Linked DNA regions of Homo sapiens: all the other regions are linked to region 2. The links come from fine-mapping of genetic effects on gene expression. A gene starts in region 2. Each other region holds a variant in brackets. All regions are shown on one strand. Distances are between the middles of the regions. Region 1 overlaps PLAUR (plasminogen activator, urokinase receptor). Region 2 holds the start of KCNN4 (potassium calcium-activated channel subfamily N member 4). Region 3 holds the start of ZNF223 (zinc finger protein 223).

Evidence for each region. PIP is the estimated chance that this variant, and not a neighbour inherited with it, causes the effect.
Region 1: its variant is fine-mapped to the expression of KCNN4 in whole blood (INTERVAL, PIP 0.93).
Region 3: its variant is fine-mapped to the expression of KCNN4 in whole blood (INTERVAL, PIP above 0.99).

What each region holds. Positions count from the first base shown.
Region 1 is chr19:43,657,894-43,666,074 of GRCh38, reverse strand. PLAUR (plasminogen activator, urokinase receptor) reads left to right here. Exons shown (of 7, transcript NM_002659.4): 3 at 616-759. It also overlaps the pseudogene RN7SL368P. Among named protein-coding and RNA genes, the nearest start is that of PLAUR, 8.2 kb to the left of the region's middle. The variant G/A (reference allele first, on the strand shown) is at 4,303.
Region 2 is chr19:43,775,963-43,784,125 of GRCh38, reverse strand. KCNN4 (potassium calcium-activated channel subfamily N member 4) reads left to right here and starts at 3,153. Exons shown (of 9, transcript NM_002250.3): 1 at 3,153-3,423; 2 at 7,490-7,585. The coding sequence starts at 3,265. RefSeq lists enhancers at 1,055-1,224, 1,365-1,414, 3,778-3,907, 4,266-4,765, 5,821-6,321, a cis regulatory region at 921-1,387 and silencers at 2,902-3,171, 5,525-5,574.
Region 3 is chr19:44,046,745-44,054,925 of GRCh38, reverse strand. It overlaps ZNF223 (zinc finger protein 223), which reads right to left and starts at 2,890. Exons shown (of 5, transcript NM_013361.6): 1 at 2,731-2,890. RefSeq lists enhancers at 2,664-2,903, 2,723-3,224 and a silencer at 2,944-3,003. The variant C/T (reference allele first, on the strand shown) is at 3,569.

The sequences.
Region 1 (8,181 bases), 120 kb after region 2:
TAAAGTTACATTTGAGGCATCTCAGTACTGAGATCACTAAGCTGAGGGTGTGGGGGAGGGATAGATGGATCCAGAAAGTCCCAGTTGTAGTGCTGTCACTACAAGAGCAGGAGTGGGACACAGTGGCTCACACCTGTAATTCCAGCACTTTGGGAGGCCAAGGTGGGAGGATCACTTGAGGCCAGGAGTTTGAGATCAGCCTGGGCAACATAGTGAGATGCCATCTGTATAAAAAATTTAAAAATTAGCAGGGTGTGGTGATGTAAGCCTGTGGTTCCAGCTACTCGGGAGGCCGAAGCAGGACTGCTTGAGCCTGGGAGGTCAAGGCTCCAGTGAGCTATGATTGCACCACTCCAGCCTGGGTGACAGAGCAAGACCCTGTCTCCCGGAAAAAAAAATTAATTAATTAATTAATTGAAATAAAATAGAGCAGGCTCCTTGTTGGGGTGGGGGTGGAGGCAAGGTTAACTCTAGAAAAAGACAGAGTTCGACTCAAATAACAGAAGAGGCCTAGCAGAGATCAGCCCTGGGAGTGGATGACCTTGAGACCAGGAGTGTCAGAGGCTGGTTGAGCTGAGAGGAGCCTCTGGGGTAATGAAGATCCCCTCCTTGCAGAAGGAGAAGAGCTGGAGCTGGTGGAGAAAAGCTGTACCCACTCAGAGAAGACCAACAGGACCCTGAGCTATCGGACTGGCTTGAAGATCACCAGCCTTACCGAGGTTGTGTGTGGGTTAGACTTGTGCAACCAGGGCAACTCTGGTGAGTAGGGCAGCCCTTGCCATCCCCAACCCCAAGCCATCCCCAGCTCAACCTCATCATCATCCCAATCCTATTCTTAACTTTACATCAGCTGAACCCCAACTCCATGCCTTATCCAAGTCCCAACCCCAACCCAACCCATCTCTAGCTCAGCTCCATCCCCAACTCATTCTTGACCCCATATCCAACCCCAACTCAACTTCACCTCCAATCCTATGCCCAACTTCATGTTACCCTAACACTGTTCCCAACTCAAACCCAGCCCTGTTCCAAGCACAGTTCCAACCCCATCCCCAAATCAACCCCATCCTTATCTCAGACTACCCAAATCCCCACCCCAACGACACAATTACTTTCATCCTTAACCCAATCCCCATCCTGCATGTTTGTATGTATGGTTGTTATGTATAACTTGCAACTCTGCCCTTAACAAGCTCACACGCATGCATGAGACATAGATGAGATGTCTCAGTGATGTTTGTCCATCTGACTGGGCAGGAGATGGTCCTGCCCAATCCATTGGGACGGGAGATGGTCCAAGCAATAGATACTGAGGGGCCAGGATTCAAGCAAAGACTTGACGTTCTTAAGGGAAGTCGAAAGAGGGGAAGATTAAATGGGCCGCAGTAGGCTGGGAGAATCCTCTGCAATAGATGGTCTCTGACTTGGGCAGTGAAAAAACAAATGTGAGGAAATGTCCATAATAGGCTGGGTGTGGTGGCTCATGCCTGTAATCCAAGCACTTTGGGAGACCAAGGCGGGAGAACCGCTTGAGCCCAAGAGTTTAAGACCAGCCTGGGCAACAACCATAAGCCCCTTTGTCGAATTTCATGGCTTCAGGCTCTGATCATTTTAAGAAAAAGACTTAGAAAAGGTCAAATTTTCCTAAATTCCCACAGGAGAGGAAGGGTGGGGAAGGAATGGGTCCATGGTGCATGGATCCATCCGTGAAAGAGATTCCTCTTTCTGGACCTGGTGAGGAAGGAAATAGGGTAAGGCCAGTCTAGTCATGGTTGGTGACATCAGTGAGCAGAGTGCTGCGTTTGCACTGGGTTTTCTTTGTTCTTCATTCATCCTGATTCTGCCTGGTTTTCATCCATCCTGACCTCAAACACTAATCCGCTGGTGGGGCCAAATCAGATGTTTGTTTTGAGGAAGTGACGAGAGGATGTGGGCTTCCCGTCTCGGTGAGATGTGCTTAAGGAAAGCACCAATACTTGGGTCTAAGTAGTGCATTCAATCAGAGATGATAGCGAAAATATTTAACAATATTGGTCAGTGCTGGGACAAACTCCTGGAGTCCGCTGCTGGGCCTGGTGTTGCCCCTTTCCATGATGGGTCACAGGGACATGAAGGGTCCTGGGGAGAGAGTTGGCAGTGGTCAGGGATCCACCAGGAGCTTAGAGCAGCAGCTATCAATTCAGGAATCTAATAACTGAGATACCTATATCATCCCTTTTTCTTTTCTTTTTTCTTTCTTTTTTTTTTTGTTTCCTTTTGTTTTTGTTTTTTTTTTTTGTTTGTTTGTTCGTTTGAGATGGAGTTTCACTCTTCTTGCCCAGGCTGGAGTGCAATGCCACGATCTCGGCTCTCTGCAACCTCCGCCTCCTAGGCTCGAGCGATTCTTCTGCCTCAGCCTCCCAAGTAGCTGGGATTACAGGCATGCGCCACCACGCCCAGCTAATTTTGTATTTTTAGTAGAGATGAGGTTTCTCCATGTTGGTCAAGCTGATCTTGAACTCCTGACCTCAGGTGATCTGCCCGCCTCAGCCTCCCAAAGTGCTGGGATTACAGACGTGAGCCACCGTGCCCGGCCTCATCCCCATTTCTAATGCCATTGTACCCTGCTTGTGGCAACTTGCATAGTTGGTTAAACTGCACTCAGTACTTACATGATGCTGGGAACACAGCAGGGACCAAGACAGCCTTGTGCCCTGCCTGACTCCATGGGACTCACAGTCCTGTGTGTGTGTGTGTGTGTGTGTGTGTGTGTGTGTGTGTGTGTGTGTGTGTGTAGGGGTGACAGACCCATCCATCACCAGACAGTGACTGATTATTAGGTTAATGCAAAAGTAATTGTGGCTTTTGCCATTAAAAGCAATGGCAGAAACCACAATTACTTTTGCACCAACCTAATAGATTTGTCTGGGCTATGAAGGGGGAAACACAGGCAGAGGGGTCAGGGCTGGGATGAGGGAAGAGTAGGAGCTGTGGGACCCTAGAGGAGATACCTGACTCAGGTCAGGGAAGGTTTCCTAGGGGAAGCAACAGCTAAGCTGGATCTTGAAGGATGAGTAGGAATCAGACTATTAAACAGCTAATGGAGGCTGGGTGCAGTGGCTCACGCCTGTAATCCCAACACTTTGGGAGGCCCAGGTGGGAGGATTGTTTCAGACCAGCCTAGGCAACATGACTCTACAAAAAAATTAAAAAATTAGCCAGATGTGATGGTACATGCCTGTGATCCCAGCTCCTTGGGAGGTTGAGGCGGGAGGATCACTATAGCCCAGGTGGTGGAGGCTGCAGTAAGCTATGATCGCACCACTGTACCCCAGCCTGGGTGACAGAGCGAGATCCTGCAAAAAAAAAAAAAAACAGTGGAAAGGGTTTTCCAGCAGAGGGAGCAGCAGATACAAAGGTGGCCAAAAGCAGTGTGGCTGGACAAAGGAAACAGTACAGTGGGGCGAGATGAGCTGGAAAGCTTGGCAGGGGCATGTTACACAGGGGTTTCTAGACATTGTCCTGGGAGCACTGGGGCATCACAGAAGATTTTAAACAGCGAATGTCATGATCGCAATTATTTATTTATTTATTTTTGAGATGGAGTTTCGCTCTTTTTGCCCAGGCTGGAGTGCAATGGTGCGATCTCAGCTCACTGCAACCTCCGCCTCCTAGGTTCAAGTGATTCTCCTGCCTCAGCCTCCCAAGAAACTGAGATTACAGGCACCCGCCACCATGCCCGGCTAATTTTTTTGAATTTTTAGTAGAGATGGGGTTTCACCATGTTGGCCAGGCTGGTCTCGAACTCTTGACCTCGTGATCCACCCACCTCGGCCTCCCAAAGTGCTGGGATTACAGACGTGAGCCACCGCGCCCGGCCCCCATTTATATTTTTAACAAATTATTCTGACCTCAGGACAGAAGATAGACTGAAAGGAAGCAAGAGTAGATGAGGGGAAACCAACTTGGGGGTGGGCGAGGTTGTCCAGGTGGAGAAGAGGGCAGCAGGACTAGGGTGTCAGGTGTGCAGAGGAAGAAAAGTGGATAGATTTAAGAGCTATTCAGGCTAGGCACAGTGGCTCACGCCTGTAATCCCAGCACTTTGGAAGGCCAAGGCAGGAGGACTGCTTGATCCCAGGAGTTGGAGGCTGCAGTGATCACGCCACTGCACTCCAGCCTAGGCGGCAGAGCAAAACCCTGTCTCAACCAAAGCCGAACAAGAGCTATTAAGAAGCAGGCCTTAGTGGTGGATTAGATGTGGGAGGGGACCTGCAATTCTGGTCATGATGGAGTCACTTGTATCAGACCAACCCTTCTGCCAAT[G/A]ACAGTTGCAAATGCTGGACAAATAATAAACAATTATTGGAAGTCACTGGAGAGCAGCAAATGAAAGGAGAAACTTGGCTGGGCAAAGTGGTTCATGCCTGTAATCCCAGCACTTTGGGAGGCCAAGACAGGTGAATTGCTCGAGCTCATGAGTTCAAGACCAGCCTGGGCAACATGGCGAAACCCCGTCTCTACTAAAAATACAAAAGTTAGCCAGGCGTGGTGGCACATGCCTGTGGTCCCAGCTACTTGGGTGGCTGAGGCACAAGAATTGCTTGAACCCGGGAGGTAGAGGTTACAGTGAGCCAAGATCACACGACTGCACTCCAGCCTGGGCGACAGCGCGAGACTCCATTTCAAAAAAAAAAAAAAGAAAAAAGAAAGAAAGGAGAAACTTGAGGCGCTACAATCTCTGAAATAACAGAAGTGTAGAATTTGGGTTCCACAGACAACCTGGCTTTTTCCCGGAGCGCACTTGCCAATCTGCTGCTGTGGAAGGGAAATAGAGCCCAGACGGAAAGAGAGTCGCTAGACTGAGAAGACGGAGGTTGGAGTTTGGGGCTGCCAGAATGTCTGGAAGATGAGAGTTAAAATCCTGGAATGGATGGGACCACAGAAAAGGGAGTTCCCAACCTGCAAACAAATCTCCCTCAAGTCATTGGCAAGCTCTACATGCACAGGGTGAGAGTCCAAGAAACTTGGAAGAGAAAAATAGCAACTGGGAAGCTACAAAAGCGAACAAGGCTTCCAGCAGACATGTGATGCTGGGGACACAGGTTGCCAAGCTGAAGAGGCCTTGGTAAGCATCTCAGGCTTTCCCCCTAAGACCACCCCAGGGGTAAGGGCCAAAGTGAAATAGACCAGCCCTAAACAAGCCTAGGTCCAGTCCTTGACAGGAATGAAAACCTGACTCTCTGTGGAAGAAGAAAACATCGTTTAGGCCCTTGACAGATTTTTATCTAGAATGTCTGGCGTCTGATCAAAATTTACAAGATAGCTAGGCATGGTGGCATGCGTCTGTAGTCCCAACTACTTGGAAGGATTTCTTGAGCCTGAGAGTTCTGGGCTGTAGTGTGCTATATCAACCGGGTGTCTGCACTAAGTTTGGCATCAATATGGTGATCTCCCAGGAGCAGGGGACCACCAGGTTGTCTAAGGAGGGGTTGAAGCAGCCCAGGTCAGAAATGGAGCAGGTCAAAACTCCTGTGATGATCAGTAGCAGGATTATGCCTATGAATAGCCACTGCACACCAGCCTGGACAACATAGCAAGACCCCATCTTTAAAAAAAAAAAAAACCAGGCCGGGCATGGTGGCTCAAGCCTGTAATCCCAGCACTTTGGGAGGCCGAGGTGGGAGGATTACAAGGTCAGGAGTTCATGACCACACTGGCCAACATGGTGAAACCCCTTCTCTACTAAAGATACAAAAAAAAAAAAAATTAGCCGGGTATGGTGGCACACACCTGTAATACCAGCTACTTGGGAGACTGAGGCAGGAGAATTGCTTGAACCAGGGAGGTGGAGGTTGCAGTGAGCCGAGATCACACCATTGCACTCCAGCCTGAGCGAGAGGGCAAGACTCTGTCTCAAAACAAAACAAAACAAAACAAAACAAAACGCAAGACTCTGTCTCAAAACAAAACAAAACAAAAAACAAAAAATAAAAAACAGTAACAAAAAACCTTACAAGGTATCCTGAAGAAAATAAAAGGGACCAATTGACCAGAAACCAAGAGAAAAATCCAACTGTAGAAACAGAATTGTAGCAACTCAGATATTGGATTATAGGACAGGAAACATGAAAATTGCTACAATCGATATATTCAGGAAAACAGAAGAAAGGATATGTTTTAGCACCTGGAATCCATTTTTTAAAAGAGTCCAACAGAAAATATAGAACAGTGACTCAAATGAAGAACTCGGCAGTTATGCTTGATAGAGGTCAGAAACAGCAGAGCAAAAGGATTAAGGAGCTAGAAGACAGAACAGTAGAAGCATGTCGGTTGATGCACAGATGTGGAAGATAAGGGGGTCTGCCAGGTTTCTGCCCCGGGGACTGGATGGGGCCGCCTTGGACGCGTGGACTTCAAGAAAAAGAGCAGTTGTGGGAGAAGATGGGGAGTTTTGTTTAGGACAGGTGTTTGAGGTATAGCCATGGGGCCTCGAAGAGACAGTTGCGTGTCTGGAGCTCAGAGAGAAGTCTAGACTAGAGAGAGATTTGTGAGTGATGAGCAGATAGATGGAAATGAAGTCATGTCAATATTTACCCCATGAGAGAGTCTATACTGTGAGAGATAAAAAGGGCTTAAAACAGAGCCCTGGCCAGGTGCGGTACTCACGTCTGTAATCCCAGCACTTTAGGAGGCCGAAGCGGCAGGATCATTTGAGTCCAGGAGTTCGAGACTAGCCTGGGTAACATAGCAAGACCTTGTCTCTACAAAAATACAGGAATCAGCCAGGTGAACTGGCACATGCCTGTAGTCTCAGCTACTCAGTAGGCTGAGATGGGAGAATCACCTGAGCTCAGGGAGGTCGAGGTGGCAGTGAGCCACTGCACTCCAGCCTTGGGACAGAGCAAGACCCTATCTCAAAAAAAAAAAAAAAGAAAAGAAAAGAAAAAGGAAAATAGCCCTAAGGATCATTGGCATTTACAAGAGTTCACACCAGAGACCCATGAGTGACCACCCAGAGTGGGCAGAACTAGAAATGGGGAATTCAAGGGGCAGTGGGAGCTCAGAGCAGGTACCCGTTCCAGGCTGATGGGTCAGGGAGGGCTTCCTAGAGGAGGTGAAATTGAAGATGACAGCTGAAGAATGAATAGGAGTTAGAGAAAGTAGGGCTCAAGGAAAAGGTGTTCTAGGTATGAACAGCTATGTTGGCAATGGTGAGAATTTGTGTTTTCATTTTCATGGAAGTTTGTGTGAGAAGACGTGGGTGGCCTTGTAGTTATTTTTCTTTGAGGGGGACGATTGGGCTTTGGATGTAAATGATTCGCCTAATTACAGCTAGCGGCCTGCCAGTTGAGAACCTTGGCTGACATGGTCCTCTCACTTTTTTAAGACTTGGCCTGGACTCAGCTTAGATGTGTCTTGGGTCAGGACGGGGAGGGCATGCCAAGCATGGGAAATGGTGTGAGCCAAGGGCTGGGTAGAGGAATGACTCTGGTGTTTCCAGGGAAAAGTAACGGATCCAGTTGGCCAACACCACAAGGTTCGTGCAAAAGGCGAAGTGATCAGGAATCAGTCAAGTGAGTCTTTGATCCCTGGGACAATTAGGTAGTGTATTATCTATTGCTTATCTATTATCTATTGCTGCATTACAGATTGCAGCAATAAAATAAGCATGTGTTATTTCACAAAGTTTCTGAAGGTCAAAAACCCTGGAGTGGCTTAGCTAGGTGGTTCTGGCTCAGGATCCTTCATGAGCCTGCAGTCGAGATGTCAGCTGGGGCTGCAGTCATCTGAAGGCTCCTAAGGTAGCTTCACTCACATGAATGCTCCCCTCCCATGGCTTTGGCACAGGCCTCAGTTCTGCCACGTGAACTTTCCCATGGTGCTACTTGAGTGTCCTCACAACATGGCTGCTGCTTGCCCCAGAAAAAGTGATCCAAGTGAGAGAGCCAGGCATGTGTTCTATGATCTAGCCACAGAAGGCATACACCATCATTTCCATAATATCCAGTTGACTACATAGGGCATCCTTATTCTTTTCTTCTTCTTTTTTTTTTTTAATTTAAAGACAGAGTCTTGCTATGTTGCCCAGACTAGTCTCAAACTCCCAGACTCAAGCAATCCTCCCACCTCGGCCTCCCAAAATGCTGGGATTACAGGCATGAGCTGCTGCACCCAGCCAGCCCTATTCTTTAAGGGCATGAATAC
Region 2 (8,163 bases):
GGCCCTCAACCCCTGAGTGGGACTGGGGTAGAACCGGAAGGAACCAGGCTGTCCGTAGATGTGCCAGTGAACAGCAGAGAGAAACTGAGGCAGAGACAAGCATAGAGAGGCCCGGAGAGAGAGAGAGAGACCCAAGAGGAGACCAGGAGGCAGGGAGAGAGTGAAACAGAGACGGAGAGAAACACCGATTCAGCAAGAGACAGACAAAAACAGAGGGCCCTAGAGACGGAGAGATGGAGACAGAGTGAGACACGATGACAGAGACACAGGCAATGATGAACACAGAGAGAGACATGACAGAGAGACAGTGACGGGGAAAGAAGGAAACAGAGGAGCAGAGAGGGACACGAAGATGGAGAAAGGGACAGAGCGATGAGAGAGACACAGAGAGGCTAAGAGAGGCAGAGACAGAGAGACAGAGTGAAGAGAGACAGAGAGAGACAAAGGTACCAGGAGAGAAGAACAGAGACAGAGATAAAGACAAACCTGGCCAGGCACGGTGGCTTACGCCTGTAATCCCAGAACTTTGGGAGGCCGAGGCGGGTGGATCACCTGAGGTCAGAAGTTCACGACCAGCCTGGCCAACATGGTGAAACCTCGTCTCTACTAAAAATACGAAAATTAGCTGGGTGTGGTGGTGCACACCTGTAATATCAGCTACTCGGGAGGTTGAGGTAGGAGAATTGCTTGAACCTGGGAGGTGGAGGTTGCAGTGAGCCGAGATCGTGCCACTGCACTCCAGCCATGGGAGACAGAGCAAGACTCTATCTCAAAAAAAAAAAAAAAAAAAAAAAAGACAAACGCGGAGGTTTCCAGATCAGGAGAGACTGAGACAGGAAGCAAGTCCCAAAGAACCAGAGAAAGAGCCGGAGAGGGAGGAGAGAGACGCAGCGAGCCGGGCGGCCAGTGGGCAGGGGTGCCCAGGCTGCAGGCTCAGGAGTGCCCGGCGGCTGCACTTTCCCCAAGTGGACGCATGTGTGGTGTCTGGGCGCGCCCGGGTGTGTCTCCAGCCCTCTCCCGCCAAGTCTCGCCGAGTGGGTAATTGTGTGTGCCGAGGGGCGGAGCCCCCGCAAGGGTTGTGTTTTTGCCACTGGGCGTGTCCATGTGTATGGTTTGGTGTCTCTGGGTGTGTTTGTGTGGGCTGCCTTGGTGTGCAGTCAGACATGTCTGTGCGTGTCTCGCTTCCCTGGGGCTGGTGGGTCCAGGGTCCCACACGACCTAGGACACAAGGAGGGGGAGGGTTGTGTCCGCAGGTTCCTTGCAGAGGGGTGTGCATGAGGCCAAGGGCAGTGTCACCAGTTCAGTGCATGATGCTGGGAGGTGATGTGCGTCACCAGGTCAGTGCATGCCTGTGTGTCTCCACAGGAGGGTTTGATCTGTGTCGGAGCGTATGGTGTACAGATCCATGAGTGGCTCGTGCTGCGACACATGGAGATGTCCTATGTTGTGTGTTGCTCTGAGAGTCACCGTGCACATTCCACACTGGCATTTGCTGTATCTCACGTCAGGGTCCATGTCCCTGTTGGGGGCCTCTTCCTTCTCAGCCCCCAGCACCCACCCTGAGTGCCAACCACCCCAAGTGTCTTGTGTTTGTGTAGCTGTGTGTTATGTTGTGTCAGAGGATACACCCCCCTCCCCCGATGCTGGTGTTGTGTGGGTGGCGGTAGACCTCAGTGTCAGTAGTATCAGTGAGTGGTGACATCTGGTGTTTTATGGGACATGTGGTCGTTTGTGGAAGGTTGGGTGTGTTGGAAAACATTGTGTTTATGTGTTTTGCGTTACTGTGTGCTGGTGTATTACTCCGCGTATGTTGTTGTGTGGCCACGCATGTTGGAATATAACGTGTTGGGTTGTGTGGAGGTATTGTATGTCATGTTTGGGTGTGGCTCATGGCTCAGAGGTGATGGTGTATGTTGCGTTTGTTTTTTTGTTTTTGCTTGTTTTAGAGATAGGATCTTGCTATGTTGCCCAGGCTGGTCTCAAACCCCTGGGCTCCAGCAATCCTCCCACCTCAACCTCCCAAACTGCTGGGATTACAGGCATGAGCCACTGCACCCAGCCGTATGTTGCATTTGGGCACTGGGGTCTATGAAGGTCCAACCCCATCCCCTTCCCCCAGGGCATCATCCTGGATGTTGTCCTGTGTGGCCAGAATATACCAGAATCATCTTGCTTCAGGCATGTGCTTCTTGGGTTTCTCCGTGTGTCGCTGTACCTTGTAGGTCTCTGCATGCATCCACTCAGCTTGTCCTCTGACCATACATTTGAATCGCACCACACATCAGAGCATGCTGAATCAGTGCGTGTTTTGAATCATCACTGCGAGCACTTGTGTTCGAGTCAACAGGCGCCACAATGTATGTGCAATTCTCTAGCTCTGGGTGATTGGGGGCTACTATAGGTATGTCCCTAAATGTTGTGTGTCTACACGTATTGGGTTTCGTTCCAAGGGTGTGTAGTGTTTAGGAAACTGGGACTGCACAGTGTTTGTGTCGGTGTGTGGTGTGTGGCATCAGGGCGTCACTACTTTAATATATATTGTGTGTTTGTGTAACACCTGGTGTATGTTGTGTTTGTGTGGCCACAGTTGTGCATCGTCCTATTTGTGGTGTTTGGGTGTGGCTCTTTGTGTCAGAGAAAGTTGTGACAACTTTGAGTGTAATATTTGTGCCTGTGTGTGGACGGTGTTTGGGTGGCTGTGTGTGCCACGGGATACTGCCTGCTTGCTAAGTGCTGGTGTGTGTCACACCATGTGTGTGGTGTCTGGGTGTGGCTGTGGGTTTCAGAGCTTGCTGGGAGTTGTGAGTCACTCTGTGTAGGTTGTGTTGTGTGCCCTGGTGTGTTAGTCTCCGTCTTGGGCTGTGGAGTGTCCTTCGGTGTCTGGGTGTGGTGAGTAGAGGTGTGTGTCACAAAGTACAGACCATTGTGTGTGACAAAGCCCATCGTGTGTCTGTGTGTGTCTTTATCCACGTGGATGGACGTCTCTTTCTTGCTCTGCCCCAAGACACACCCTAGCCCCTCCTTATTCTCAAAAGGGGGAGCTGGGGAGCCTCCCCCTACCCTGGGGCCTCCCCTGCCCCTCCCCGCCCTGCCTGGCCGTCACCACTCCCCAGAGGGCACAGGGCTCTGCTGTGCCTCAGAGCAAAAGTCCCAGAGCCAGCAGAGCAGGCTGACGACCTGCAAGCCACAGTGGCTGCCCTGTGCGTGCTGCGAGGTGGGGGACCCTGGGCAGGAAGCTGGCTGAGCCCCAAGACCCCGGGGGCCATGGGCGGGGATCTGGTGCTTGGCCTGGGGGCCTTGAGACGCCGAAAGCGCTTGCTGGAGCAGGAGAAGTCTCTGGCCGGCTGGGCACTGGTGCTGGCAGGAACTGGCATTGGACTCATGGTGCTGCATGCAGAGATGCTGTGGTTCGGGGGGTGCTCGGTGAGTGGGGCATGGTGGCTGGGAGCTGGGACTCCTAGGTCTGAGGGAGGAGGGGCTGGGGGTCAGGACTCTTGGGTCTGAGGGAGGGGGGGCTGGGGGTCAGGACTCCTGGGTCTGAGGGAGGAGGGGCTGAGGGTCAGGACTCCTGGGTCTGAGGGAGGAGGGACTGGGGACTTGGACTCCTGGGTCTGAGGGAGGAGGGACTGAGGGCCTGGACTCCTGGGTCTGAGGGAGGAGGGGCTGGGGGTCAGGACTCCTGGGTCTGAGGGAGGAGGGGCTGGGGTCTGGACTCCTGGGTCTGAGGGAGGAGGGGCTGGGGGTCAGGACTCCTGGATCTGAGGGAGGAGAGGTTGGGGGCCTAGACTCTTGGGTCTGAGGGAGGAGGGGCTTTGGCTGGGACTCCTGGGTGCTCCCAGGAGACAGTTGCTGGGGTCCTTCTCTGCAAAAGGAAGGGAATATTTGTTTCAGTGTTTCAGTCTTTGAAGATGTTGCCATTAGACGGCCAGAGGTCCAGGACCCCTGGAGGCCAGAGGGTGGCTGATCAGACACTCAAGCCCCCCAAGAGCCAATAAGGGGAGAGGTAGCCCCAGGTTTGGTGAAGGGAGAGTGGAGGAAAGACAAAGTTCTTCCAGTAGGCGGCAGCTCTTTGGTCCTTGTCTAACCTCTAATGTTTACCCAGTGCCTTAGATGCAAAGGACAGAAAAAACTGCCTTGGGGGTGGGGATGGGAAATGGGAAACAAACCTCTCCCCCGACCTGCCTCCCCCCACCAACCCCAACCCAGTCTCCACTGTTAACAAGCTCAATTTCTCCCCAAATCTGCATGCTGATTAGTCAGGGAAATAGTGGAGAGGTAGGCTTACAGTGGCCTGGACTCCTAGGTACCAGGAGAGGAGGGGGCTGGGTCCTGGATTCCTGAGTCTTAAGGAGAAGGGGGTTTTGATTGCTTTTGGGGAAGAGGGGCTGACTCCGAAGATGAGTGGTGAGTAGGGAAGAAAGGGGAAAGTGGGGTCAGGGCAGGTCTCAGCAGGCTCCCGTCACATTCCAGCCCTGGTCAGGCCAGTGATGGGGCAGATCAAGGACAAGGGTTGGAATAAGTGGCTTGAGGGGAGAACAGACTTGCTCAACAGGAAAGGAGGGGCTGGAGACCTCTCTGGCAGAAGGGTTGTGGAACTGGGCTGGTAGGGCCAGATGCGGACACTGATATGAAGATTGGGTAGATTCCTGAGGGTCTGATGTTCCGACTTGGATCTGGAGGGGGTGGTGGGCAGCTCTGAAGTGACCAGGAGCCACATGGAGGGTCAGGCATGCAGCTTCCTCTGGCAGGCGGCGGGCACTGAGGGGGTGGGGCCGCCGAAGTCCATGCCAACAGGAAGCATGGCCGGGGCCTGCCCGCCGCTCCCACGCCGAAGCACCGCACCCAGAAGCCGAGGTGGGAACACAGTGACCCTGGCAGATGGGAAGAGACGGGGTCCATCCTACCCCACTTCACCCCTCTGCTTTCTCACCCCTCATTTCTTCCTTCCCTCCACCATGGCCAGGCCACTGCCTCTATCAGTGGGACCTTGGGGAAGCTGTTACAACCCTCTGAACCTCAGTTTCCCCATCTGTAAATTGGGGTGAGGGTTAAAATACATGACCCTAAGGGTCACCCTCCACCCTTTTTATTTTATGTAGAGATGGGACCTTGCTTTGTTGCCTAGGCTGGTCTTGAACTCCTGGACTCAGGCAATCCTCCTGCCTCAAAGTGCTGGGATTACAGGCCTGAGCCACAGCTCCTCAGTCCCCTTTTGAGGACTCTCTTAATAACATCCACCGCCCCTCACCACCTCCATCTCAATCTAATGAGCTCATTTCTGCAAAGGACCCAGACACCTGCTCCCCAGGGGGAGGGGCTGGCAGAGAGGCAGGTGCAAAACCCTAGGGAGTCCAAGGGAACTGGATAGAGATATCCAAAAGCACCAGGTGGGGTGGAGGAGGAGGGATGGGGAGAGGTACAGAGAGAGACAGAGACACAGAGATACATGGAGAGAAAAAGAGAGATGGAGACAAAAATGCAGAAAGATAGAGAAGTACAGCTAAAGAGAAAGACAAATAGGGCTATCAAGCTACTGAGAAATCCACCAGTGAGAGATACACACACAGCGTTAGAAAAGACAATAGAGGGCCGGGCGCGGTGGCTCACGCCTGTAATCCCAGCACTTTGGGAGGCCGAGGTGGGCGGATCACAAGGTCAGGACATCGAGACCATCCTGGCTAACACAGTGAAACCCCATCTCTACTAAAAACACAAAAAATTAGCCAGGCATGGCGGCGTGTGCCTGTAGTCCCAGCTACTCAGGAGGCTGAGGCAGGAGAATGGTGTGAACCCAGGAGGCGGAGCTTGCAATGAGCCAAGATCGTGCCACTGCACTCCAGCCTGGGTGACAGAGCAAGACTCCGTCTCAAAAAAAAAAAGAGACAATAGAAACAAAGACCCTCAAAACACATAGAAAGACAGCAACAACCATCCCTAGAGACAGGGAAATTCAGAGAACAGAGTACAGGCCCAAGTGCAGACAGGTCCGGGATTTGGGGGAAGAGGAAATGGAAAAGTAGAGAGGACCACCAGAGAAGCAAATTGCAGTGTGAGGAGGGAGCTTGTTGTCTAGTGGTGTGGGCAGTTAAGACAGACTGAAGAAAGAGGCAGGGAACCAGGGAGCCATAGAAGGTGGGGGAGGGCTGGTGACAACAGCACTATTGTTCTGATAGGGGGTTGGGGAGCAGGCCCCTGGGGCAGGAAACTGGCCCTCTTCCCCTGCTCAGAGGCGGGATGCTGGCCCAGCCAGGGGAGCTGGCAGCCCTCTTAGGAGAAACAGGTGCAATGCTTTGTAAGGACGCCCAGGTGGTCCCCTCCCCCTGCAAATACCCGCCAGGCAGGGACCAACCCCTCTTAGGAAATCCAACAGTCCCAGTCCCCTCTAAATCCCTCTCTCCAGAATTCTAGATTCCTCCAAGGTTGTGCCACACAAAGAGAGGAAAAAAAAAAAAAGGAACAATTTCTCCGTGGTTTCTGGAGGCCCTGTGCTTCCGGCCAGATCTGCCCTGGGCTTAGAGCCAGAAGAGAGGGGTGGCAGTGGGGAGCTGCAGGGGGGCAGAACCGAGGGGGCTGTCTCAGAGCTGAGGCTGGGTCTCAGGGACTCAGCCCTCCGGATGAGAGCAGAGAAGGGTGTGACTCAGTCTTTGAGGATTGAATGGTAGTTTCTACATTCTTCCAGATCTGGGGTTGGGGTTGATTGAAGTTGGTTTCTAGGACAACACCAGGTGGGTAGGAAGGGAAGGGGAGGGGGCACTCTCTAGAGGCTAGATGTCTTTTTCTAGACACCACACACACACACCCACACACACACACACACACACACACACCTGAAGAACTATTTTTGATGTGAAATGGGACAGGAATAAGAAGGAATGTGAGTTTCAAGGTCCCCCTTCATGGGTATGGGTCTTGGGAGAAGAGCTGAGGAAGAGGGTAGACACCAGCATCTGGACAGGGTTGTCCTGTTGGGGAGAAAGAGAGCATTCCTGGGGACCAGATGATGGTGTTTTTTTGTTTGTTTGTTTGCTTGCTTGCTTGTTTCGAGACGGAGACTCGCTCTGTTGCCCAGGCTGGAGTGCAGTGGCGCGATCTCTCAGCTCACTGCAACTTCCACCTCCTGGGTTCAAGATTCTGGTTCCTCAGCCTCCCAAGTAGCTGGGATTACACACCCAGCTAATTTTTTGTTTTTTTAGTAGAGACTGGGTTTCACCATGTTGGCCAGGGGGTCTCAAACTCCCGACCTTCGGTGATCCACCTGCCTCAGCCTCCCAGAGTGTTGGGATTACAGGTGTGAGCCACCGCACTGGGCCCAGATGATGGTTTTGAGACTTCTCCAGAACCGACACATCAAGAGGGACTGATTTGCAGGGGAAGGAGGCTAGGAAAATTGGGAATCAAAAAAAAAAAATGGTGGTTTTGAAGGAAAGGTGGAGGGCCAGGCGGAGGGAGACCTGGGATCTCACACCGCTTTTTCCGTCCCCCCTGACAGTGGGCGCTCTACCTGTTCCTGGTTAAATGCACGATCAGCATTTCCACCTTCTTACTCCTCTGCCTCATCGTGGCCTTTCATGCCAAAGAGGTCCAGGTAGGGCAGGCCCCGCCCCTAAGCCTTGCTCCCTCCAACCCCCTCAGCGCCCTGTCAGCTCACACTTTCCACCCTCCTCCTCCTCCTGATCTGAGTAATGAAGTTCTTCTGCCCTAGGTGCTGCGTCCACACCCTCACCTACCCAGATGGGATGAACCATGAGCAGACAGGCAGAGCCTCCCCCACCAGCTCCGCCTTCCCCTGTAGTCCCCAGCCCCCCCTTGCACACTCACGGATGCTGAGAGTGCCCTTGCAGCCCTGCTTCCGCCCCCAGGCCTCTGTCCACTCTGCTCCCAGGCACTCAGCTTCCCAGATCTCTGTGCTCCGACATGGCATCCCCAATCCAGTCCTCAAGCAACCTAAGGTCCTAGGGCTGCCCACTCCTTTTTTTTTTTTTTTTTTTTTTTTTTTTTGAGACAAGGTCTTGCTCTGTTGCCCAGGCTAGAGTGGAGTGGCACGATCTCTGCTCACTGCAACCTCCACCTCCTGGGTTCAAACAATTCTCATGCCTCAGCCTCCCAAGTAGCTGTGACTACAGGCAGATGCCACCACGCCCAGCTAATTTTTTTGTATTTTAG
Region 3 (8,181 bases), 270 kb before region 2:
TATTCATACAATGGAATCTTATTTGGAAATGTAAAGGAATGAAATACTGACCCATGCAACAACACCCGTGAACCTTGAAAACATTACAGTAAATGAAAGAAGCAAGTCACAAAAACCCACAGACCCTACGATTCCATTTATATGAAATGTCTGGAATAGACAAGTAGAATAGAATAGAAAGTAGGTTAGCAGTTGTTCTAAATTTGAGTTGAGAATGAGGTTCAAAGTAAATGGGCATGAGGAGTCCAACTGGGGGATGAAAGTGATCTCGGCTGAATTATGATGATGATTACCCCACTTCAAAGTTCCTAAAGACCACTGAACTGACTTGTATACCTGAAATGGGTGAATGCTATAACTAAAATAAACCTAGAGTTTAAAAAAAAAACTGTTAATGCACATATCATTAGAATCAATAAGACTGGATTCTGAGTCCACATTGATAGAATATTTATAGTTGAACAAATCAATGAACCAATAGAGGAGAAATGGAAGCTCTTTTTTACAAGAAAATGCCCACTAATAATGTATTTTCCCATAAGAAACTTCATAATTTAAAAAAAAGTAACATAAGAGTGGAAAAATCTGAAAGACATCTTCTTGGCCAGTGACAAAGCTGAGATCACCAATGAAGGGACAAACGAACATCACTTGGACCTTGTTATGTTACAATGAAAAGGGCATCCTATTGCACCATTGTACCCCAGCCTGGGTGACAAGAGCAAAACTGTCTCAAACAAAAAAAAAAAAAAAGAAAAGGGCATCTTAACACTCCTGTGGAATCCCCACCAACAATGTATAATCTAAACCTAAATGTGAAATATATCTGTAGGGGAAAGAAAAAGAGATCAGGCTGTTACTGTGTCTACGTAGAAAAAGGAAGACATGAGAAACTCCATTTTGATCTGTACTAAGAAAAATTCTTCTGCCTTGAGATGCTGTTAATCTGTAACCCTAGCCCCAACCCTGTGCTCGCAGAAACATGTGTTGTATTGACTCAAGGTTTAATGGATTTAGGGCTGTGCAGGATGTGCTTTGGTAAAAATGTGTTTGCAGGCAGTATGCTTGGTAAAAGTCATTGCCATTCTCCAGTCTCGATTAACCAGGGACACCATACACTGCGGAAGGCCACAGGGACCTCTGCCCAAGAAAGCCTGGGCATTGTCCAAGGTTTCCACCCACTGAGACAGCCTGAGAGATGGCCTCGTGGGAAGGGAAAGACCTGACCGTCCCCCAGCCCGACACCCATAAGGGGTCTGTGCTGAGGAGGATTAGTGAAAGAGGAAGGCCTCTTTGCAGTTGAGGTAAGAGGAAGGCATCTGTCTCCTGCTCATCCCTGGGAATGGAATGTCTCGGTATAAAACCCAATCGTACATTCTATTTACTGAGATAGGAGAAAACCGCCTTATGGCTGGAGGTGAGACATACTGGCGGCAATACTGGTCTTTACTGCACTGAGATGTTTGTGTAAAGTCACACATAAATCTGGCCTATGTGCACATCCAGGCACAACTCCTTTCCTTAAACTTATTTATGACAGAGTCCTTTGCTCACATGTTTTCCGGCTGACCCTCTCCCCACCATTACCCTATAGTCCTTCCACATCCCCCTCACCAAGATAGTAGAGATAGTGATCAATAAATACTGAGGGAACTCAGAGACCAGTGCCGGTACAGGTCCTCATTTGCTGAGCGCCGGTCCCCTGGGCCCACTTTTCTTCCTCTATACTTTGTGTCTGTGTCTTATTTCTTTTCTCAGTTTCTCATTTCCACCTTGTGAGAAACACCCACAGGTGTGGAGAGGCAGGCCCCCTTCAATATCAAACTCCAAATGAACAACTATGGAAATGTGACAGCTAAAGACAACGCATAAACTGGACTTTGAATAGGTGAAGGGTGGGGCAGAGGACAGTCATAAGGACTTTAAATGAAAAATTTAACAAATTCGTATATGGAACTGCAGATTAGATAACATGATGCTAGGTAATATGCTATCCAACACTATCTAGTAAGTACACTACAAATACTAGTATTCTTTTAACACATCTATCTGACATGTAATCGGTAACAGTATTATTTAACATAATATCCAATATTATCTACCATGTTATGTGAAACCCTATAACCAGCCCTTCCTAAATGCCTCTTACCAAGACACCCCACAATTACCGTGGTATGTGGGCTTCCTTGCTGCAGAAAGCTACCAATCAGCTGTCTCTGGTTACAGGTATGTTCCTGGTGGTATTTGGTTGATGGTCATCAACAAAGCAAACAGGAAAAATGTAAACACTTGGCAAATTTGGGTAAAGGGTATATGAGAATTTCTTATACTGTTTTTGCAATTTTTCTATAGCTTTGAAATGATATCAAACGTTTTAAAATATCAGGCAACAAGAGACCACTCACCAAGTGACAGGGACAACTTTAAGGCTTTCATTTGTATTATCTCTTTCAATTCGCAAAACAATTCTATTAGGATGACCCTATAAGCACCATTTTAAAGAACAGCAATGGGAAGTACAGAGACATTAACATTCCACATCACACTGCGAGAAAGAGTGTACACACTGCATACGTAGGGAGGCGGACTGAGCGAGGTCAAAGTCCTGGAAACCCTCAGAGCAGGGCACACAAGGCCACCCCAATCCCACCCCCCGGGAGGCGAGCAAAGCCCCCCGACGCCAGAAGGCTCCGCTGACGGGAACAATAAACACCCTCCCCGCCCTCGCACCTCTAAACCTCTGCTCTTCGCCAAGGCTTCTTTTCCCCTGAGACGATCATCGATCATCGGGTGGTTGCGAGCCTCAAGCAAAGGGGGTTCGTTCAAAATGTCCTGCAAGACGCAGAAATGGCTCAAACTACCCCGGTCATTAAAGCAGGAACCTCAGACTAGGAGACCGGAAGTGTCCTCTCTGCGCCAGAGTGTCTGGACTCCACTCCCCAGAATTCCCCGGACCCGCCCCCCTGAGCCAAAGGGCCCGGGACTCCGCAGAGTGTCTGGACTATCGTTCCCAGAATTCAACGGTTCACCTGCCAGAGCCAAAATACCCAGTGTTCCACGAGCCAGTGGACTACACTTCCCGTAAAATGGACTACTCTTCCCAGAATTCTCCGGAAACGCCTACCTGAGCTGAAGTATCAGGAATCCCGCAAGGTGTCTGGACTGCAGAGCCTCAGATGCAAAAGGAAAATGTCCATCACCTCACCCTTTAGGCTCAAGTGTTGCGACTACATGGTGCTCCTCGATTACACTTCCCGCAACACCCACGGGGAACGAATTTCATAGCCCCAGGTTCCTGGTGGGGAATGCAGACTGTTACCCTGACAGTTGTCCTTCCCAGAGTCCTCGAGCGAAAATATTGAATAGAAAGAATTTATGAAGTCTAAATGTCTCCCATGATTGACAGGAGTGTTCTTGGACAGGGAACAAGCGAGGAGATACAATATTCAAGGAGCTAGATAGAGTGACTGTTGAGCCGTCAGATGGCTGAAAGGAGGCTCAGGGTTTAAAGCAAGGATATCCAACTCCAGGGCCACAGACCTGTACCGGTCCACTGACTGTTAGGAAC[C/T]GGGCGGCACAGCAGGAAGTGAGCGGCAGGTGAGGGAGCATTATGGCCTGAGCTCCACCTCCTGTGAGATCAGCCCAGCATTACATTCTCATAGGAGCGCGGATCCTATTGTGAACTGTGCGTGCGAAGGATCTAGGTCAGGCGCTCCTTATGAGAATCTAATGGCTGAGGTGGAACAGTTTCATCCCGAAACCATTCCCCAGTCCGTGGAAAAATTGTCTTCCACAAAACCGGTCCATGGTGCTAAAACGGTTGGGGACCACTGGTTTAAAGAATGAGCCAGGTAGAATGGGTTGGGAGGGGCAATGAGAAGCCAGGAAAGCATCAGCCCCTGTAACTGAAAAGTAGATCAGTGGCTTCCCGTTTGCAACGTCCAGTTAACAAGAGGGAGATCTGGTATAAAGAAAGTGATTTATTCTAGAGCTAGCGTAGGGGAAGTAGCACAGGTGTTGTCTTTAAGTGCACGGCTTGGCTTTTAGAGCAGAAAGCAGGCACTTTTAAAAGGTAGGGGAGGAAGAGGGAAGGGGTCTGTGTGCTGGCTTGGTGCCTTATCTATTAGGCAGTTGAGCTGGCTTTTTCATGGGCAGAAATAAGTTGTAACCAGAAGGGAGAGAGTAGCAGGCACGCTTTCAACTGTTGTCTCTTCAGGCAACCTCCTGGTGAGTGAGAGTTCAGAGGCCAGCATGCTTTAGTTTGTAAATTGACTGTTAATTCTGGAGGAGAGTTCTGGCTTGGAGCACACAGTTAGATGAACTTTCCCTGTAGGAAGTGTCTGGTGAAGGGGAGGTAAAAGTCTATATTTGCATTTTTAAAGGGCTACATAGGAAGTGGGGAACTAAGGGAATGAGAAAAGAGAGAGAAATAAATAAGCTGTCTCTTAGAAAAATGGTGGTTCTCAGTTACAGCCCTAGTCCAGATGCTGTGGTACCACTGGTTTGACAGGAAAAACAAAATTCCAGCCACCAATGGAGAAGCTGTGTCCTCATGGAAAAGCTACATTTAACATTCTCATGGTAGTAATATTTCTACTTTAGATGTAGAAACGCTAAATTTCAGAGAAGTTAGTGAATTGCTAAGTATCTTAAAGCAAGTATAACTGTTGAAGAGCTTGGCATTGGTATCAATCTGACACCCAATGTCTGATTCAATGCCATAAAACTGGAGAAGATTCTATAGGTGACGGAGCATGATTTATTATTAAGAGTTTCTTCCTTTCCATTTCTTGGTTAAAATATCTTCATTATAGGAAACAATTTGAAAACTGGCATATGTTAGTTGAAAGACATTAATAATAGTATAAAGCTAAATCAGGAAACAATTCATCTAAAATTCTCTTTTGAAGATAAACCATATTTTTTGTCCTCCCAAATAAACATACATTGACCTGTCGACCTATATTTTTCTTTTTAAAAAGAGTCTAATGTCCTGTATCCATTTTCCTAAAGTAAAAAAAAATAAAAAAAAATTAAAAAAAGACTGTTCACAATTTTTTTTTGATACAGAGTCTTGCTGTTTTGCCCAGGCCAGAGTGCAGTGCGCGATCTCGGCTCACTGCAACCTCTGCTTCCTGGGTTCAAGTGATTCTCCTGCCTCAGCCTCCCAAGTAGCTGGGACTACAGGCATGTGCCACTACGCCTGGCTAATTTTTTGTATTTTTAGTAGAGATGGGGGTTTCACTGTGTTAGCCAGGATGGTCTCAATCTCCTGACCTCGTGATCTGCCCACCTTGGCCTCCCAAAGTGCTGGGATTACAGGTGTGAGCCACTGCACCTGGCTGACGTTTCACAGTTTGGTTTGGACAAAAATTAAGGTGACTGAGCAACCACATAGTGCCAAACAAATTTTCAATGCCCCCTTGAAAATTGAGTGATGGCTATTCCTATACCAATTACAGCTGTATCCTTACTCTACTCTGCATTCACAAAAGATAAAATTTATTGATACTCTCAGTGGTAGTGTATGCAAGGAGCTGAGCCTGAGATGTTAGGCGGCACCTGGCATCAAAGGTCCCTGCTGTTGCCCACGTCCCTGTGCTCTGGGCCTCTGATGGGAGGAGCAGCCTCCAAGATCTGTGAAATACTTCTGGGGTCATTCTTCCATTGTCTTGGACAATAGGTCCTGGTTTGAGTCAACATGGTCAATCCATACTAATCTCATAAATCAGTTGTTCAGCCACACCCTTGTTTTCTCCAGGACAGGGTTTTGCATGTTTTCCAAAGTAGATAAGCTGCAAATTTTAAAAGTATTTAGTTCTCTTTACCTTTTAATTAGTAATTCCGGCTTTCAGTCACTTCTCACTTTCTACATTTTACTATAGGTAGTCAAGATTATTCAAGATGCAACTTCAACACATTGTTAAGAAATAGTGTCAGCTAAATATTCAATTACATTGCTCACAAGTTCTACCTACCAAAAAACACTAGGACCTGAATATAATTCAGCCAAATTATTTACCCCTTTATAACAAGAACCCCGCTTTCTTCAGTTTCCAGTAACATGTTCCACATTTCTGACTGAGGTCTCATCATAATGGCCTTTACTGTCCATATTTCTATCAACATTCTGATCGTGACCACATAGGTTTACTCTAAGAAGACTGATGCTTTCTCTAGCTCTCATTCTGTCCTTCTGAGCCCTAACCAGAATTGTCTTTAACAGTCCAATCATGACAATGTAGGTTTTTCCTAGCATGCATTTCAGAAGTCTCCCAGCCTCTACCCATTATACAGTCACAAAGATACTTCCACATTTTTAGATATTTGTTACAACAGCAATCCCACTTCTCAATACCAATATTCTTAGTCACAAAAAACCATGGGCTAGCTGGCTTATAAGCAACAGAAACTTATTCCTCACAATCAAGGCACTGGGAGATTTTATGTCTGAAGTGGGGCTGCTTTCTGGTTCATAGGTGGCACCTTGTTGCAATGTCCTCAAATGGTGGAAGTGATGAACAAGTTTCCTCAGGTCTCTTTTACAAAGGGACTCATCCCATTAATAAGAGTTCTGCCCTCATAATCTAATCACCCTCCAAAGGCTCTACCTCCTAAAACCATCTTATTGGGGGTAAGGAATTAAACATGTGAATTTTAGTGGTCCACAAACATTTAAACCATTGCATCAGGTAGTTTCATAATTACTAAGTCATATTATTGTAAAAATAACTCAGCTAACTAGAGTTCAACATCATTACAGTTCTTTTTGTCTTTATGCTGAGGACATATACTCAAAATACTGTACTGTGTTTAATATGGTACTTAAATGACTTCTTGCTTTCATCTTTAGTCTGTGTTATTGATTTGAATGCATTTAGGTTAGTCTGTTATTCTTTGATTTTAAGTTTCCTGGTTTATCTCCATTCTTGATTTTATATTATTATGTCAATCAATAACATATTCCCATAAGTCTATACTATACAAAATGTTATTCTCAGAAAAGTGCCACTCACTCCCCTCCTTTCCACCGCACCACTTCCACAGTGTTGACTCCTAATACCCATGTGTAACCAATTTCATTATTTTCTGGTTTATCATTACCAGTTTTTACAGAAAACATGTAGATTTCTTATTTTCGCTGTTTACTTAAACAAAAGGTAGCATTCATCTAAACCTTCTATGGTCACTCAACAATATATCCTGGAAAATCACTTCATATAGAGTACATGCTTTTCACAACTCCACAAACTCCATTGTGTGCTTTATTCAATACTGCACCCATTCATGGGCATTTCAGTGGTTTCCAATATTTTATTACTACAAACAATGCCATGATACATAAACTCATACATATATATTTTCTCCCTGTTGATGATATATGTTAAGGGTACATTTCAAAAAGTAGGATTTCAGGGCCAAAATGGGAATAGAAGTGTATTTTGTTGCATATTGTCAAATTGCCTTTATATTTTATACTATTTTTCATTTCCAGAAGCAATGTATGAGGAATGTCTTGCCTTGACACTAGCTAACAGAATGTGGTATTTTGATGTTTTTAAAGTTTTCCCAATCTAATGGTAAGAAATGGTAACTAAATGTAGTTTTAATTTGTATTTTTTTTTGTAAATATCATGGAATATCTTTGCATATTTTCTTTTTTTATAAGGGTAGAACATATTTTATTTTACATGTTATTAGCTTGCTTTGTACACTTAAATATCAAGGCATATGGTAGGTAGGCCTCCATTTGTATTCTTGCCCTGAACCCTGTAAATGTCACAGTCAGGCCTATATTCCTTTTTTTCCACATTTATTCATCACATTTATTCACAAGTTAAAGAATTAGAAACACAGCTTTGTCATTTGTAAAATAACCAAGTTGTATAAGATAATCTCTAATTTTCTTTCCCCCTCTAAAATGTTATGACATTTATTATAATAATAATAATTATTCTTTATTTTACTTTAAGTTGTGGGATACATGTGCTGAACATGCAGGTTTGTTACATAGGTATATGTGCCATGGTGGTTTGCTGCACCTCATCTTTGCATATTTTCAAGGACCATTATTATATTTTTTGGAAACTGTACAAATCTCTTGTCCCATCTTCTATTGTGTTTTTGGTCTTTTCTCCTTAATTTTAAGTATTATTTATACATTTACAATATTAACATATC